Regions from separate parts of the Homo sapiens genome. Here region 2 is linked to region 1. The links come from fine-mapping of genetic effects on gene expression. Tissue or cell type: whole blood. Region 1 holds a variant in brackets; the other region holds the start of a gene. All regions are shown on one strand. Distances are between the middles of the regions.

Region 1 (8,190 bases):
GAATTATCTCATTTATAATTCACACTGGATCAAAAAAATTGGTTCCCCTCTGTGTAGATCAATTTAATTCAAACCTTATTATCTTCAGAATACAGAGAGGAATACTACAAGATAAACTCTAACTGCACTAGGTGTTTTCTAAGTAGAAGACCAAACACCAAAGGGAATCCCTCTTTCCGACGTCTTTTGATATGACAAGATTTTGCCAGAGTGGAAGTCTAACACTTAAAAAAGCATTCTCATGGCCAAGTAAGAAACTACAGTTGTTGTGGGTATTACAATACAATTACCATATGTACTACATATTAAATTAAACTCAGCATTAAATATGCTTCTAAAATTATGCTGTTAATGATGATAACAGTGATGATGCTGGTGGAAAAAGCCTGTCTTTAGCCCAAGAAAAGTAAGGGAGAAAAATTTAACAAGCAGAAAGCAGACACAGAGTTGGGCATTTTTTTGACTAGGAAAGATAATTTTAAACAAAGACATATAAAAAGAAAAGTAATCCCTTATTTCCCCTATGTGGAAATAATATGAAATATTTATTAGATATATTGGACAAGAGCAGAACTAAGTACTCCAACTGTACTGCAGGATTACAAAAAAATCATCCCTTCACCACAGTGTAAGGTTTAAGGGCAATCTGCAAAAGTATGCATGTTATATAAAGGACAGCAAGATTGCTGCTGCCCTGCCAAGTACTTCCAGTCCCTACCCAGGTCCTACTGAAATAGTGGTGGTCCCAATTAGTTTTATTGATATAAATCTTTAAAGAAAAAGATAAAGCATTTAAAAAGACAAGTCAAAATGCTTCAGGAACCATATATCCAACACAAACTTTATCCTCAAATGAGTTATGTTTCCCTCACACTAATATACTTTTATTTCACTCAAACTAGAGCAATAATCTTCCATACATATGTATATTCCCTGCCCAATAATTCAAAGAAAAAAATCCAAAATGGTTAGCAAATAAAAATATGATAATTAACAGATGCTTTAAATTTGTTTTAAATATTTTTAAGGTTTAAAAGGTGTTTGAAGTTTGTAATTCCTAGTAGGAAAACATTATCTGAATGAATACCCTAATGGCAAACCACTGTAAAATGTTTCAGCTGCATTTGAGGGAGAGGGGTAGGAATTATCTTCAAAGCACCCCAGATCTTTTGATGAGAAGGTCAGAGGTACACTGGTTTGTATTATTGTGACATCTGTAAGGTGATCTTGGTTGCTTTTCCTTCAGCAAGGGCTTTATTTATCAGAAGGGCATTATGCTTGACCTCCAAATTTGGCTCACAATTTACTGATAAGATTCATAACCTTTGGGTTGCTCTGGTATTTTGATATATTTGCTGGGTTCTGAGCCACATCCTGGAAGGCCACCATAACTTCTGGATCCTGCATGGCTGTAAGAACCTCTGGATCACTAAGAATTTCATTAAGCCCAGGCATTCTGGCCACTCCTGGTATGCCCCCTCCGATTCCAGGCATTCTTCCAAGAAAATTACCAGGCATTACCCCAGGAAAGCCACCTGGAAAAGAGCCATACTGAGCTCCTGACTGTTGTCTGGCTGCTTCCTCCCTCTGGGCTCTCTCATGCTCTTCTCATGCCTTCTTAACTCTTTCTACTCTTTCTTTGATCTCTCACCCTTCACATTTTTGCTCATACTTTCTCCGATGTTCTGCAATTTTCTGAGCCCTAAATTGGACTTCTTTCAGCGTTGCACTAGCATCTTTATCATACTCCAATTTACAGACAAGGGCAAGATCATGGGCTGCTCCTTTCCAGTGGCCTGGAAGCCTGTGTGCTTTCCCTCGCCACTTGTAAGGCTGAGCTAAATCAGGATTTATTTCAATGGCTCTGTCACAGTGTTGGATGGCAGCATTTGGCTTCTGTAATTTGACAAAGACACTGGCCCTCTTGGCATACAAAATGGCCAAGTGAGGATTCAGCTTAATGGCATCTGTGAAAACGTCAATGGCTTTCTGCAGTTCACCATCATTTAGGGCTTCAATAGCAGCTACTTTCTTATCATTTGCCTGATCCATCATCTCCTCTGTTATCTCTGCATTTTCATCTCTCATTTCTTGAGGGGCATCAGTGTCTGGTTCAATCACACCTTCATTATCAATTTCTAGATCACTTTCCTCACTTGATGGTTTGTCTGCCTTTAAGTCTTCCTCCACTTTCTTACTACCAGGTTTTTCTTCCTTGGTATTTTCGTCTGATTTAGCTTTCTGAGTAGCAGGTGGTATTTACCCCCCATACTCTCCACCCACACCCTCAGGAAGCACATTTCCTCGGTGTGCAGAACGCTCGGATCCTGCTTACACATTTTCACAAAGGCCCGAAGCTCGTTCACTTTGTGGGGTTCCATGGTCAGGAGGCGGTGGGCGAAGCTGAGGGGCTGTGGCCGGGTTCCAGGCCCAGGCGCTGACTTGGCATGACTGTGCAGAAGGGGGCGGCTGCCGCAAGTCAGAGCAGACTCAGATGGATCTTACTATTTTGAGGTATGTTCTTTCAATACCCAGTTTATTAAAGGATTTTAGCAAGGATTTTGAATTTTATCAAAAGCTTTCTCTGCATCTATTGAGATAATCATGTTTTTTGTCTTCAGTTCTGTTTATGTGATGAATCACATTTATTGATTGTGATACCAACCTTGTTGAACCAACCTTGCATCCTGGGGATGATGCCTACTTGATCATGATGGATAAGCTTTTTCTTGGGCTGCTGGATTCAATTTGCCAGTATTTTGCTGAGAACTTTTGCATTGATGTTCATTACATTAAGGATATTGGCCTGAATTATCTTTTTTTGTTATATAACTGCCAGGTTTTGCTTATAAGGATAATGCTGGCCTTATAGAATAAGTTAGGGAGAAGTCTCTCTTTTTCAATGTTTTGGAATAGTTTCAGTAGGAGTGGTATCAGCTCTTCTTTGTACATCTGGTAGAATTCAGCTGCAAATTCATCTGGCCCTGGACTTGTTTTGGTTGGTGGGCTATTTATTACAGCCTCAATTTCAGAACTCATTATTGGTCTGTTCAGGGATTCAGTTTATTTCTGGTTCAGTCTTGGAAGGGTGTATGGGAGTGTAAATTAGTTCAGCCATTGTGGAAGACAGTGTGGTGATTCCCCAAAGACCTAAAGACAGAAACACCATTCAACCCCACAATCTTATTACTGAGTATATACCCAAAGAAATATAAATCATTCTATTGTAAAGACACATGCACACGTATGTTCATTGTAGCACTATCCACAATAGCAAAGACATGGAATCAACCAAATGCCCATCAGAGATAGACTGGATAAAGAAAATGTGGTACATAGACACCACAGAATACTATGCACCCATGAAAAAGAATGACATCAAGTCCTTTGCAGGGACATGTATGGAGTTGGAGGCCATTATCCTTAGCAAACTAACACAGAAACAGAAAACCAGAAATGGCATGTTCTCACTTATAAGTGGAAGGTAATGATGAGAACACATGAACACATAGATGGGAACAATATACACTGGGGCCTTTCAGAAGGCAGAGGGTGGGAGGAGGGAGAGGATCAGGAAAAACAACTAATGGGTAGTAGAATACCTAGGTGATGAAATAATCTGTACAACAAACCCCCACGACAAAAGCTTACCTATGTAACAAACCTGCACTTGTAC[C/A]CTTGAACTTAAAATAAAAGTTAAAAAAATTCCAAATGTAAAAATATATATATAATATAAAACTCACCCATTTTGTGCATACAATTAAATTATTTCAGTAACTTTACTGAGTGCGACAACCATCACCATAAGTCAGCTTTGGAAGATTTTCATCACCCTAATAACAGCCATCATGCCCATTTAGTTAAGTCTCTTTTCCACAGTGGCTACATGGTGTTCTGCAAAATGAATATACCATAATTTTATTTAGTATTAAGTCTAAAACATCTAGAATGTTTCCTTCTTTTCCCAATTCAAAATAAACTTTAATAAATATCTTTGTGGTCAAACAACAACAACAAAATACCATAATCTGGGTGGCTTAAAAACAACAGAAATTTATTTCTCATATCTCTGGAGGCTGGGAAGTCTTAGAACAAGGTGCCAACAGATTCAGTGACTGGTGAAGACTCTCTTCCTGGTTCACAGATGGCACCCTCTCACTGTGTTCTCACATGTTGGAAGGAGCGAGAAAGCTCTCTGGGGCCTTTTATAAAGGGCACTAATCTGATTGATGAGGGCTTTGCCCCTATGTTCTAATCACCTCCCAAAAGTTCTGCCTTCAAATATTATCGTACTGGGGATTAGGTTTCAACATGTGAATTTTGGGGGGAATACGAACATCCAGACCATAGCAGGCACATTATCAAGTAATTACTGTTTCTTCCATCCAGTTGAGAAATTCTGGGAGAGATAGAGTAGAATATCTCAGACTTATCCCAACTGAGGGAAGAGGTGACTGGTATTGTCATTGGTTTATATTTATTTCAGCCATTCTGATGGGTGTATATTTGTATTACATTGTCCTTTCCCTATTCTCTATATTTTTTGTCCTTCTCATTTTGATGTTTTTTATATATTTGGAGTTCTGTATATATTTGGATCTCTCTCTTCTTTTTAAGCTATATGTGTAGCCAATATCTCTCCCATTGTATGTATTGACTTCTCACACTTTTAATGTCATTTGATTAATAGAAGTTTTACATTTTTAATAGAGTTCAATTTATCAATATTTTCTTTTATGTTTAGCACTTTTTTGGTCTTGTTTACAAACTCTTTGCCTACTCAACACCATTTGTTAAAAAGACAATTTTTTCCATTTAGTTTCTTTCACTTAATAATATGCATTTACGATTTCTCCATATCTTTTCAGGACATGATAGCTCACCTTCTATTAGTGCTGAATAATATTTCATTGTCTAGTTGTACTACAGTTTATTTGTTCATTCACCTACTGGAGGACATCTTGGTTGCTGCCAAGTTTTGGCAATTATGAATGAAGCTGCTATAAACATTCACGTGCAAGGTTTTGTGTGGAAATAAGATTTCAAATATTTTCCATAAATACCAAGGAGCACAACTGATGGATCATACAGTAAGAATAAGTTTAGTTCTGTAAGAACTGCCAAACTGTCTTCCAAAGTTGCTGCAGCATTTTTTATTTTTAGCAGCAAAGTTGCTGCTGTTTCACATCTTCCTCAGGATATATAATGCATGACTCCAACTATATGACATTCAGGTAAAGGCAAAACTTTGAAGAGTAAAAAGATCAGTGGTTGCAAGGGGTTGGGGAGAGCGAGGATGAATAGGTGAAGCACAGAGGATTTTAGGGTGGTGAAATTACCCCGTGGGATGCTGTAATGGTACATAAATATCATTATGAATTTGTCTAAACACATAGAATGTACAACACCAAGTGTGAACTTTAACAATGTGCCAATGAAGGTTCACCAGTTGTAACAAGTGTCCACTGTGACATGGGATGTTGACAGTAAGAGAGGGTGTGTATGTGTAAGGGGCAGGAAGTATATGGGAACTCTCTGTACTTTCCACTCAATTTTGTGATGAACGTATAACTGTTCTAAAACATATTAATACATACATATGTATATTTTATAAATAAATATGTATACAAATATAAATAGTGGGTTATAATTACATATATATATATCCTATTATTTGCTCACTGAATTGTAGCAATTTGTCACAAATTATGTGACTATATTGTGGGGGTGAGCTTCTAGACTCTCAAGTCTCTTATTTTGTATCGTTGAATCAATAGCACACTGTTTTAATTACTATAGAATTATAATAGGTCTCAATAACTAGTGATGTATTTTTCTTCTATTACACATGATTGCTGGAGGTAATTTGGAGACACTGTTGGTCAGATTATTGTTCAGATTCATCTCATTTTCTGAGAGATTTTTGTTTAGTTTCGTTTTCATTCTTTTTTTTCCCTTTAGTAAATATTTGTTGAATTTTGCCAGATACTTTTTATTACATATATTGGGACATTTGAATAATTTTTGTTTTTTTTTCTGTTAATGTTGTGAATAATGTTGACTGATTTTAGAAATTAAATCCTTCCCTGCATTGCTGAATTAAAATTACACTTGAATGGTATTTCTATTCTTCTACAACTCTTTTAAATTTTATTTTCTGTTATTTCTCTAGCTCCTTGAGGTTAGTGCTTAAATAATTGTGTTTTCATATATCACTGGATTCAATTTTCTACTCTTTTGCTTAGGGTTTTTGTGTCTATATTCATGAGGATTACTCTAATTTAATCTTTCTTGTTACATCCTTGTCAGATTTTGGCATCAGTTTATATCTTGATTAGCAGTTCTAGAAATTTAATCTGTTTTATTATTCTTTTAAAGAGCCAAAGCCTGACTTTTACATTTCTTTCATTGTGCATTTTTAAAATAATTTATATTCTTAGCTTTTTTCCTTTGCATCCTATAAATTTTAATTTGCTATTCTTTCTCTAGCTTCTTGAGTTAGAAAATTATATATTTTTTTCTAATTTATACATTTAAAGCTACAAATTGTTCTGAACCATATGTTAGCTGCATTACACAAGTTTGATATATCTTGTCTTCATTAAAATGAAAGTGATTTTTTAATTGATACATAAGAGTTGTATATATTTATGGGGTACATGTTATATTTTGATACATGCATACAATGTGTAAAAATCACATTAGGGTAATTGGGTTATATATCATCTCAAACATTTATAATTTCTTTGTGTTGGGAACATTCCAAACCTTTCCTCATAGGTATTTGAAAATGTACTATAAATTCTTGTTAACTGTAGTTGCCCTACTGGGCTACTCAACATTAAAACTTATTTCCTCTATCTAAGTATATTTTTAACCAACTTTCTTTTTGAATTTTTATTGTGATATTTTCTTTTGCCTATGAATAAGCATGTTGCATAACTTTCTGGTAGATAGGATATATTTTTGTTATTTTGTTATTGACTTTTAATTCCACTCTGGTAAGAGAACATAATCTACATAACTTCAATGTTTTAAAGTTTTTTGGGGTTTCTGCATGTCTCAACATCTGGCCACTTTTGGTAAATTATCCATTAGCATTTGAAAATAAGGTAAGTTCTGAGGTTGTTGGGGACAGCATTTTACATAGGGAATTTGTTAATTATGTTTGTTAGATCTTCTAATCTATAGAAGATTATTTAGTTCTTGTCTACTAATTGTAACAGGTATTTAGAGAGGTTTGTTAATGTCTTCTACTTTTATTAATTGCCTATCCCTTCTAATTCTGATGATTTTTGTTTTAAGTATTTTGAAGTTTCTTTATTTAATGCAAGCAGATTTAGATTGGCATATTGTCTTTTTCTATTAACTCCTTTATCATGATATAAAATTCTTTCGCCGGGCGTGGTGGCTCATGCCTGTAATCCTAGCACTTTGGGAGGCCAAGGCGGGCAGATCACTTGAGGTCAGGAGTTAGAGACCAGCCTGACCAACATGGCAAAACCCCGTCTCTACTAAAAATACAAAAATTAGCCTGCTGCAATGGCATGCGCCTGTAATCCTAGCTACTCCAGAAGCTGAGATGGGAGAATGGCTTGAACCCAGGAGGCAGAGGTTGCAGTGAGCCGAGATCGTGTCACTGGACTCCAGCCTAGGTGACAGAGTGAGACTCTGTCTTAAAAAAAAAAAAAAAAAAATTCATTTACAGCAACTCTTCTTTACATGAAGCACACTTTTTTTCAATATTAGTAAAGCTACATACACATGTATTGCCTTAGCCTCAATTTTACCAGTATATCTTGCAGTCCCTCATTTTCAACATTTTTGTGACCTCATCTTTAACATATGTCTCTTCTAGGCAGTAGTAGGTAGCACAGAAGGTTTTATTTGTTCACTTGTTTGTTTTCCCCATCCAGCCCCCTGTAACTATGTAAAGCTCCATTGAGTCATCTCGGTCCCTCTGTAGCACTCTTCTTCCTAGGTCAATCCCAGAATTCAAGCCTCTAGACAAGGTACAGGAGTTTAACCAGAAACAGCAGAAGAGATTCAGATAGACTCTGACATACTCTAAAATTTTACTTCTTGTAGTGACTTCTGTGAATCTCTGTCTGTATATGTAGTAAATAATTTGACTTTTCAGGTGGTTCTCAGCAGAATTGTTATCCTGTGAAGTACTCCATCTATCTAAAA
Region 2 (8,190 bases), 270 kb after region 1:
TGAGCCCAAGCCAAGCCATGCATCCCCTGTGACCTGCACGTATATGCCCAGATGGCCTGAAGTAACTGAAGAATCACAAAAGAAGTGAATATGCCCTGCACCACCTTAATGATGACATTCCACCACAAAAGAAGTGTAAATGGCCGGTCCTTGCCTTAACTGATGACATTACCTTGTGAAACTCCTTTTCCTGGCTCATCCTGGCTCAAAGCACCCCCACTGAGCACCTTGCGGCCCCCACTCCTGCCCGCCAGAGAACAAACCCCCTTTGACTGTAATTTTCCTTTACCTACCCAAATCCTATAAAACAGCCCCACCCTTATCTCCCTTGGCTGACTCTCTTTTCGGACTCAGCCCGCCTGCACCCAGGTGAAATAAACAGCCATGCTGCTCACACAAAGCCTGTTTGGTGGTCTCTTCACACGGATGCGCATGAAACTTTATTTATTTTATTTTATTTTATTTTATTTTATTTTTTTATTGATCATTCTTGGGTGTTTCTCGCAGAGGGGGATTTGGCAGGGTCATAGGACAATAGTGGAGGGAAGGTCAGCAGATAAACAAGTGAACAAAGGTCTCTGGTTTTCCTAGGCAGAGGACCCTGCGGCCTTCCACAGTGTTTGTGTCCCTGGTTACTTGAGATTAGGGAGTGGTGATGACTCTCAACGAGCATGCTGCCTTCAAGCATCTGTTTAACAAAGCACATCTTGCACCGCCCTTAATCCATTTAGCCCTGAGTGGACACAGCACATGTTTCAGAGAGCACGGGGTTGGGGGTAAGGTCACAGATCAACAGGATAAGAATTTTTCTTAGTACAGAACAAAATGAAAAGTCTCCCATGTCTACCTCTTTCTACACAGACACGGCAACCATCCGATTTCTCAATCTTTTCCCCACCTTTCCCCGCTTTCTATTCCACAAAACCGCCATTGTCATCATGGCCCGTTCTCAATGAGCTGTTGGGTACACCTCCCAGACGGGGTGGTGGCCGGGCAGAGGGGCTCCTCACTTCCCAGTAGGGGCGGCCGGGCAGAGGCGCCCCTCACCTCCCGGACGGGGCGGCTGGCCGGGCAGGGGGCTGACCCCCCCACCTCACTCCCGGATGGGGCGGCTGGCCGGGCAGAGGGGCTCCTCACTTCCCAGTAGGGGCGGCCGGGCAGAGGCACCCCTCACCTCCCGGACGGGGTGGCTGGCCCGGCGGGGGGCTGATCCCCCCACCTCCCTCCCAGACGGGGCGGCTTGCCAGGCAGGGGGCTGACCCCCCCACCTCCCTCCCGGACCGGGCGGCTGGCCGGGCAGAGGGGCTCCTCACTTCCCAGTAGGGGCGGCCGGGCAGAGGCACCCCTCACCTCCCGGACGGGGCGGCTGGCCGGGCGGGGGGCTGACCCCCCCACCTCCCTCCCGGACTGGGCGGCTGGCCGGGCGGGGGGCTGATCCCCCCACCTCCCTCCCGGACGGGGTGGCTGCTGGGCGGAGACGCTCCTCACTTCCCAGACGGGGCGGCTGGCCGGGCAGAGGGGCTCCTCACTTCCCAGTAGGGGCCGCCGGGCAGAGGCGCCCCTCACCTCCCGGACGGGGCGGCTGGCCGGGCGGGGGGCTGACCCCCCACCTCCCTCCCAGACGGGGTGGCTGCTGGGCAGAGACGCTCCTCACTTCCCAGACAGGGTGGCTGCTGGGCAGAGGGGCTCCTCACTTCTCAGATGGGGCGGCTGCCGGGCGGAGGGTCTCCTCACTTCCCAGACGGGGCCGCCGGGCAGAGACGCTCCTCACCTCCCAGACGGGGTCGCGGCGGGGTAGAGGCGCTCCTCACATCCCAGACGGGGCGGCGGGGCAGAGGCGCTCCCCACATCTCAGACGATGGGCGGCTGGGCAGAGAGGCTCCTCACTTCCTAGATGGGATGGCGGCCGGGAAGAGGCGCTCCTCACTTCCTAGATGGGATGGCGGCCAGGCAGAGACACTCCTCACTTTCCAGACTGGGCAGCCAGGCAGAGGGGCTCCTCACATCCCAGACAATGGGCGGCCAGGCAGAGACGCTCCTCACTTCCCAGGCGGGGTGGCGGCCGGGCAGAGGCTGCAATCTCTGCACTTTGGGAGGCCAAGGGAGGCGGCTGGGAGGTGGAGGTTGTAGCGAGCTGAGATCACGCCACTGCACTCCAGTCTGGGCGCCATTGAGCACTGAGTGAACCAGACTCCGTCTGCAATCCCGGCACCTCAGGAGGCCGAGGCTGGTGGATCACTCGCGGTTAGGAGCTGGAGACCAGCCCGGCCAACACAGCGAATCCCCGTCTCCACCAAAAAAATACGAAAACCAGTCAGGCGTGGCGGCGCGCCTGCAATTGCAGGCACTCAGCAGGCTGAGGCAGGAGAATCAGGCAGGGAGGTTGCAGTGAGCTGAGATGGCAGCAGTACAGTCTAGCTTCTGCTCGGCATCAGAGGGAGACTGTGGAAAGAGAGGGAGAGGGAGACCGTGAGAGGGAGAGGGAGAGGGAGACGGAGAGGGAGAGGGAGAGGGAGAGGGAGAGGGAGGAGAGGCGAAACTTTCAAGAAAGAAAATCTGATTGGCTGAGCTTGCCTCTACCTGAGCTACAGATTCCTCAAAAGTTTAATCAAGGTCCATGGTGGTACCAAGAAAAAAGGACTTTCCTCTACAATCTGAGTGAGATGATAGCTTTGATTGTGGTTGAGGGGCAGGGCATGAGGTAATAGGAGATAAGTTATTAACATGATATGAAATCCAGAACATGAGTGAGAAGGCAGCATGGAGGAGGATTTATGCATTTTTGCTCTAAAGGCAGACTGCATGACATTAGAATCACAGCTCCACATACTGAACTCGATCTTCCTAGACATGTGAAATGGGCATACAAAGAGGACCTTCTTTATAAGCTAGTTGTGAGAATTAAATCGATAATTTATGTTCCAGTCACCACCAAATAATTATTCAATATGTATTAAAAACACTCAAGATGAAAGGTTACCTTTTACAGAGAGGTCTAAGGAAAGCAAGAAAAATTGAAGGCACAAAGAATCTGAGATGCAGAAGCAAGAAACTCCTACATTTTCTGACCAAATGTCTTCAGCCTTCCTGGCAAAGTAGATTCTGCCCATTTATTAGATCTCTAGTGATCTTAGTCTGATATGACCATAATTCCAATACAGAGACAGTACGGATGAACCTCAATGATAGGGACATACAGCAGAGACTCTGGTTGACATCTGTAAATATTTACATATTTTGTAGAATAATAATAATAGAAATACAGAAAACAGCGATAATGATAGCCAACAATTATTGGAGGTTTGCTACATGCTGGGTCCTGCCTTAAGTACTTTTTATGTATTAAGCCATTTAGTACTTACATCAAGCCCAGAAACTTTTATTATCGACATTTTAGGAACAAAGGAACTGAGGCATAGTGAATTCAAATAACTGGGCTGAGTAGCCAAGTTAGCAAGTAGCTAAGGTAGGGCTCAAAGCCTGACACCTGCAATAGATAATGCATTACATTGTCTCACTAAGAGAGACCTCCAACGGTAGCCCTCAGACTTTTAAAAAAAATAAATACATTGACAGTGGGTGAAACAAATGAAATAACTTGAAGAAGAAACAAACTGCAAAAAAGCTTATTAACAGTGTAATAATAAATATGTAATTTTTTAAACCCTAACTCTAGGGGGAAAAAAGCATTCTTTTTCAACTGATTACAAAAACAATCCTGGAAAGTAAAGGAAATAGCTATTCAAAATGATCGTATCTGAAATCTTGGTGTAAGCTGTTTCCTTCATCTGTTTCCTCCACTAAAAAAAAGAAAGAAAGAAAGAAAAAAGAGGTTTAGACTAAATAGAGTCAGAGTTGCAGTGACCTAAACAGGAAGTTGGGCTATTCCCAACTGCCAGTGATCTCTGAAGCCGACTCTGAGGCTCCCTCTTTGCTCTAACAGACAGCAGCGACTTTAGGCTGGATAATAGTCAAATTCTTACCTCGCTCTTTCACTGCTAGTAAGATCAGATTGCGTTTCTTTCAGTTACTCTTCAATCGCCAGTTTCTTGATCTGCTTCTAAAAGAAGAAGTAGAGAAGATAAATCCTGTCTTCAATACCTGGAAGGAAAAACAAAATAACCTCAACTCCGTTTTGAAAAAAACATTCCAAGAACTTTCATCAGAGATTTTACTTGTGAGTACCTGGCAATATACTGTCTAGCCCATAAGAAATAACTTTAATTTCTTTTTCTCGGGGGAAAAGCAGGGTGCTGAGAGGCAAAGAACTGATAGGGGAGGATCACTGTTTATTTGCGTAAAATGAAAATCAGCCCTTCCCTGTAAACAGAGTAAACTCAAACTGCAATCCAAACTTGAGTTCTCAGCATTTTGCATTTAGTTCTTAAGCAAATTTATGTGCAATTTTTATGATTTTAAACCATAAACATTTTTGTAACTAATTGGTGTATGTAGCTTTTTTATAATTTGAAGATTGTAGTAGAATTCTTTACTAATTGTGCTTGGTTAATTGGAAGTTCTTGAAAGTTCGGTTTACCTTTCCATTTTATTTCATAACATATAAAATAGAGACTGTTATTCTTCTATTCAAATAATCTTTCAATACTATTAGTTGATGATATTTAAAATGAGGTATAACCATTAAAATAATCGTAATCTAAATGGAATATTTTATGCCAGCATTAACTAATCTCTCTAAGGAAATATTTTACAATTCTCCAAAGACCAAAGGTCATATTCTGAGATACTTAAACGAGAATACTTACGATCAAGTCTATGTTGTGCAATTTTGTAAATTAAAACAATAGATAACATGCCTACATGATGTACTGTTATGTTCCTGTTATAAAATGTTTGCTTCTAGTGAAAAATGAAAGCATATAATACAGCAGTAAACAACCACAGAAATATAATGAGAGAAACAATTATTTAATTATGAAAAAGCACTCATTAGTATAAAATAATTACCAAAAATAAGGGCCAAGAGTACTACCATGTGGGAAAAAAGAAAAGATAAGCAACAGCCACACTGTGACTCAGTGCTCTGGAAATTAGTCACAAAATGACTTTGTATAACATGAGATAATATAAACACAAAGGGCAAAACTCAAGCAGGAAACATACTGCCCAGAGAGTCATATTTCATGTGTAAAAGCATAATATTTACATGAAAGGGGGAAAGTTGTGACAATTTTGAGAGATACTGCAAAACTTTTGAATAAAATGTGTTAGGGAGGCAAAATCTCCCTAACACATTTTAAAGATTATTTTAAATCTATCATTCTAGTGCATGATTATTTCAATATACAGTGTCCATATCTCATCTAATCCTTAAACTAAAGAGGGATAGTCCCTGAAATTTGGCTGAGTTTGAAATGTTAATTTGTGGCCTACAGCTTAATAAAATTATATGAAATATAATTAGGGATCAACAAAGATTGAAAAATATTAATGTAAATACAGATAACTAATCAAGTAATTTTAAAATAAGAGTAAAACTTTAAAATATTTATTTTTACTGATTTGAGTAGTTATATTGGAAAACCAAGTTTTTCTACTTCAAGTGACCACAGAATCTTGTTGGAAAAGTTTAATGACATATACTACTATTTGATTCCTATCTCTATTAGGTATACTGAATTGGACAAGTTTTTGTTTTGTTTTGTTTCTTTGTTTTTAAGGTACAGTCTGATATCTTTTGTTTTACCACCAATGACTAAATCAAAACTCCTTTGGAAATGTGGTTCCTGTCCAAATGGATTATGTTATCAACTGGTGTTTGATGGTCTGACTGATTGTCCATTTATCAGTCAGATAATCATTTAAGGAAATGATTATCATTTGCTTGTTGATTGTACAACTATTTTGACTTAAATCTTCTGTCATAAAACTTATTGTTAAATTAATAATACATAAAATGATAACATATTTTGTAATAAACTCTAATTTTCAAAACAGCTTAATTATCTTAAAAATTAATTTTCTAATCTTTAGAAATCTTTTGTTTACATCTTTCAAATTCAAGAGGTAAGTGGGCAGGATGGCAAACTAATGGAGAAAAAATGCCAACTTTAGAGACTTAATTTAATGCCAGAGTGCCTATCCATCTAACCAAATAGTAAATATGCTATCAATTCCTTAGGAATGGTTGGCTGATTAAATTCAGTGTCACAAAATTTTAAGGTATCTTTCAACTGATATCTCTACCTAATACAAGAAAAAAAATGCAAAGTAAACATCCTTACAAAAAATAAAAAGGAACAGACAATATGAAAAGTGAAGAAAATTACTTAGACTAGGATTTTCAAAAAAATCTTATCAGTATAAATTAATTAAATTGAATTATAATATAGGTTAAAATGGGTTAATTATATCATCAATTTATTTTTTTCTATGTGGACATGATCTAAGAATTGTACTACAATACAACTCATCTATTCTCAATAAAGGCCTTCTACAACCAGCCATCCTTTTTTGTTTACCATCTATAGCAATTAACTCATTTTAGGAATTAAATTTGGCAGGCTGCCTTTTTAAAACACAAATATATTTTCATGCATTAGTGTCAAAGGTAGATTCTGCTATCTTTTATAGAAATATAGCAGTACTATAATTCTTTCTGATTGCTACAATGTGCATTAGGAGAAACTTGAATTCAATAGACATGTGTTTCTGGATATCAAATCTCACCAGAAACAGGGAAGTGTTCAAGTGTTTCCAGCAAGTTCTCTTCATAATAGACCATCTTTCCTGGCTTTCTGAAATCCTCACTGACTGCTTTCTTGGTGTTATGTATCAATTCCGGGGGCCCAGTCTTCCCATTACCTTTCTCTCCCTGTCTTCACTTCTCCAAGTGTCAGGTGCCAAGTAGAACCACAGCCTGAGATTCAACTACCAGTAGCTACCAGTTGCTGAAGGCAACTTCTTCACCTCTACTTTTCTTCTTCCTCAAACCGACAATAACAGAAAGTATGGGCCCATGTCAAATCCACTGTTTTCTCTTTAAGCCTCTATTTGGGATGCTATGTCCTCTCTTAGTTGGAACAACCAGGTGTTAAAATTACTTCAAAAACAAAAGAATATAAGGACATCATGGCCCATAATAGAAGTTCCAATGCTGCAGTACAACTATCCCAATTGTTCCATGTGATGGACCACAGGTCTCTGTGTAGACTTGGAATTATTGCAAGGAATTACCCAGTCAATATGTGAGTAAAAAATATTATATATTGCTTATTAGGGCATAAGAAAGCTATTTCAACATCAGAAATGTGAAAGTATTCATCAGTAGGACACTGATAAAATGTAAACAGTTTTTATTACCAAGCACAATGTGCCTTTGACACCCTCGAAATATACCACACCCTCAAGTGCTGCCACCACACTGCTGCCAACCTAGTCTATCTCTTCTCCTCTTCTTGACCCTTATCTATTTCTATCCAGTCCTTGAATTCTATGATAATTCATCTGTAAGCATCACTTCATTCCTCATTCCTCATTTCCCAAGGCTTAAAAACAGAGTAAATCTCAGAAACAGGGTAAGTCTCCAGAATAATGGTGTTTATTATGAATATTTTGGTAATATTTTAAAGTCCATTTAGGAAGCTTCAAAGATTAATTTTCATCTCAGAAAATGAATCACAATGGTTATATTAAAATGTAATACAACTTTTCTCTAGTTTTTTGGACATATGGAAAATACTTTACATTTTTAATATTTTTGTCTGCTAATTCTGTTTTTGATGTCATTTCTGTCATTTAGACTTTTCTCATTATGAGTTATATTCTACTGTTCTTTGCATCCCTAGTAATTTTGATGTGGTTGCCTAATATTATGAATTTTACCTTATTGGGTGTTGGTATATGTTGTATTTCTATAAATATCCTTGAGCTCTCTTCTGGGATGTAGTTAAAGTACTTGGAAACTGTTTCCTATTTTGTTGTCTTGCTATTAAACTTTGTTAGGCAAGACCAGAGAATTGTTTATTCTATGGTTAATTTTTTCCTACTACTGTTGCAAACACCTGAGTACTATACTTAATGCTCCATGAACTGAGAGTTTTGCAACTTGGGAACAAAAAATATTCCCTGCTTTACATGTGTGGGCCCCTCTAACCCTTTTAGGTGGTGCTTCACCCAGTCTTTAGACTTTTCTCTTATGAATGCAACAGATCAATATTGAGCTGAAGC

Alleles and levels. Positions count from the first base shown, and alleles are read on the strand shown. Sizes are in standard deviations (SD) of each study's normalised expression.
With allele A in place of C in region 1, the expression in whole blood of the gene that starts at base 3,942 in region 2 is lower (moderate effect, 0.40 SD a copy in GTEx).

The links. PIP is the estimated chance that this variant, and not a neighbour inherited with it, causes the effect. A credible set is the group of variants that fine-mapping cannot tell apart.
Region 2: it holds the start of TFPI, and the variant in region 1 is the best candidate, but not a certain one, in a credible set for the expression of TFPI in whole blood (GTEx, PIP 0.55).

The regions. Positions count from the first base shown.
Region 1 is chr2:187,819,532-187,827,721 of GRCh38, reverse strand. It overlaps the pseudogene ST13P2. Among named protein-coding and RNA genes, the nearest start is that of TFPI, 270 kb to the right of the region's middle. The variant C/A (reference allele first, on the strand shown) is at 3,677.
Region 2 is chr2:187,550,187-187,558,376 of GRCh38, reverse strand. It overlaps TFPI (tissue factor pathway inhibitor), which reads left to right and starts at 3,942. Exons shown (of 8, transcript NM_006287.6): 1 at 3,942-4,177. RefSeq lists enhancers at 1-315, 316-900.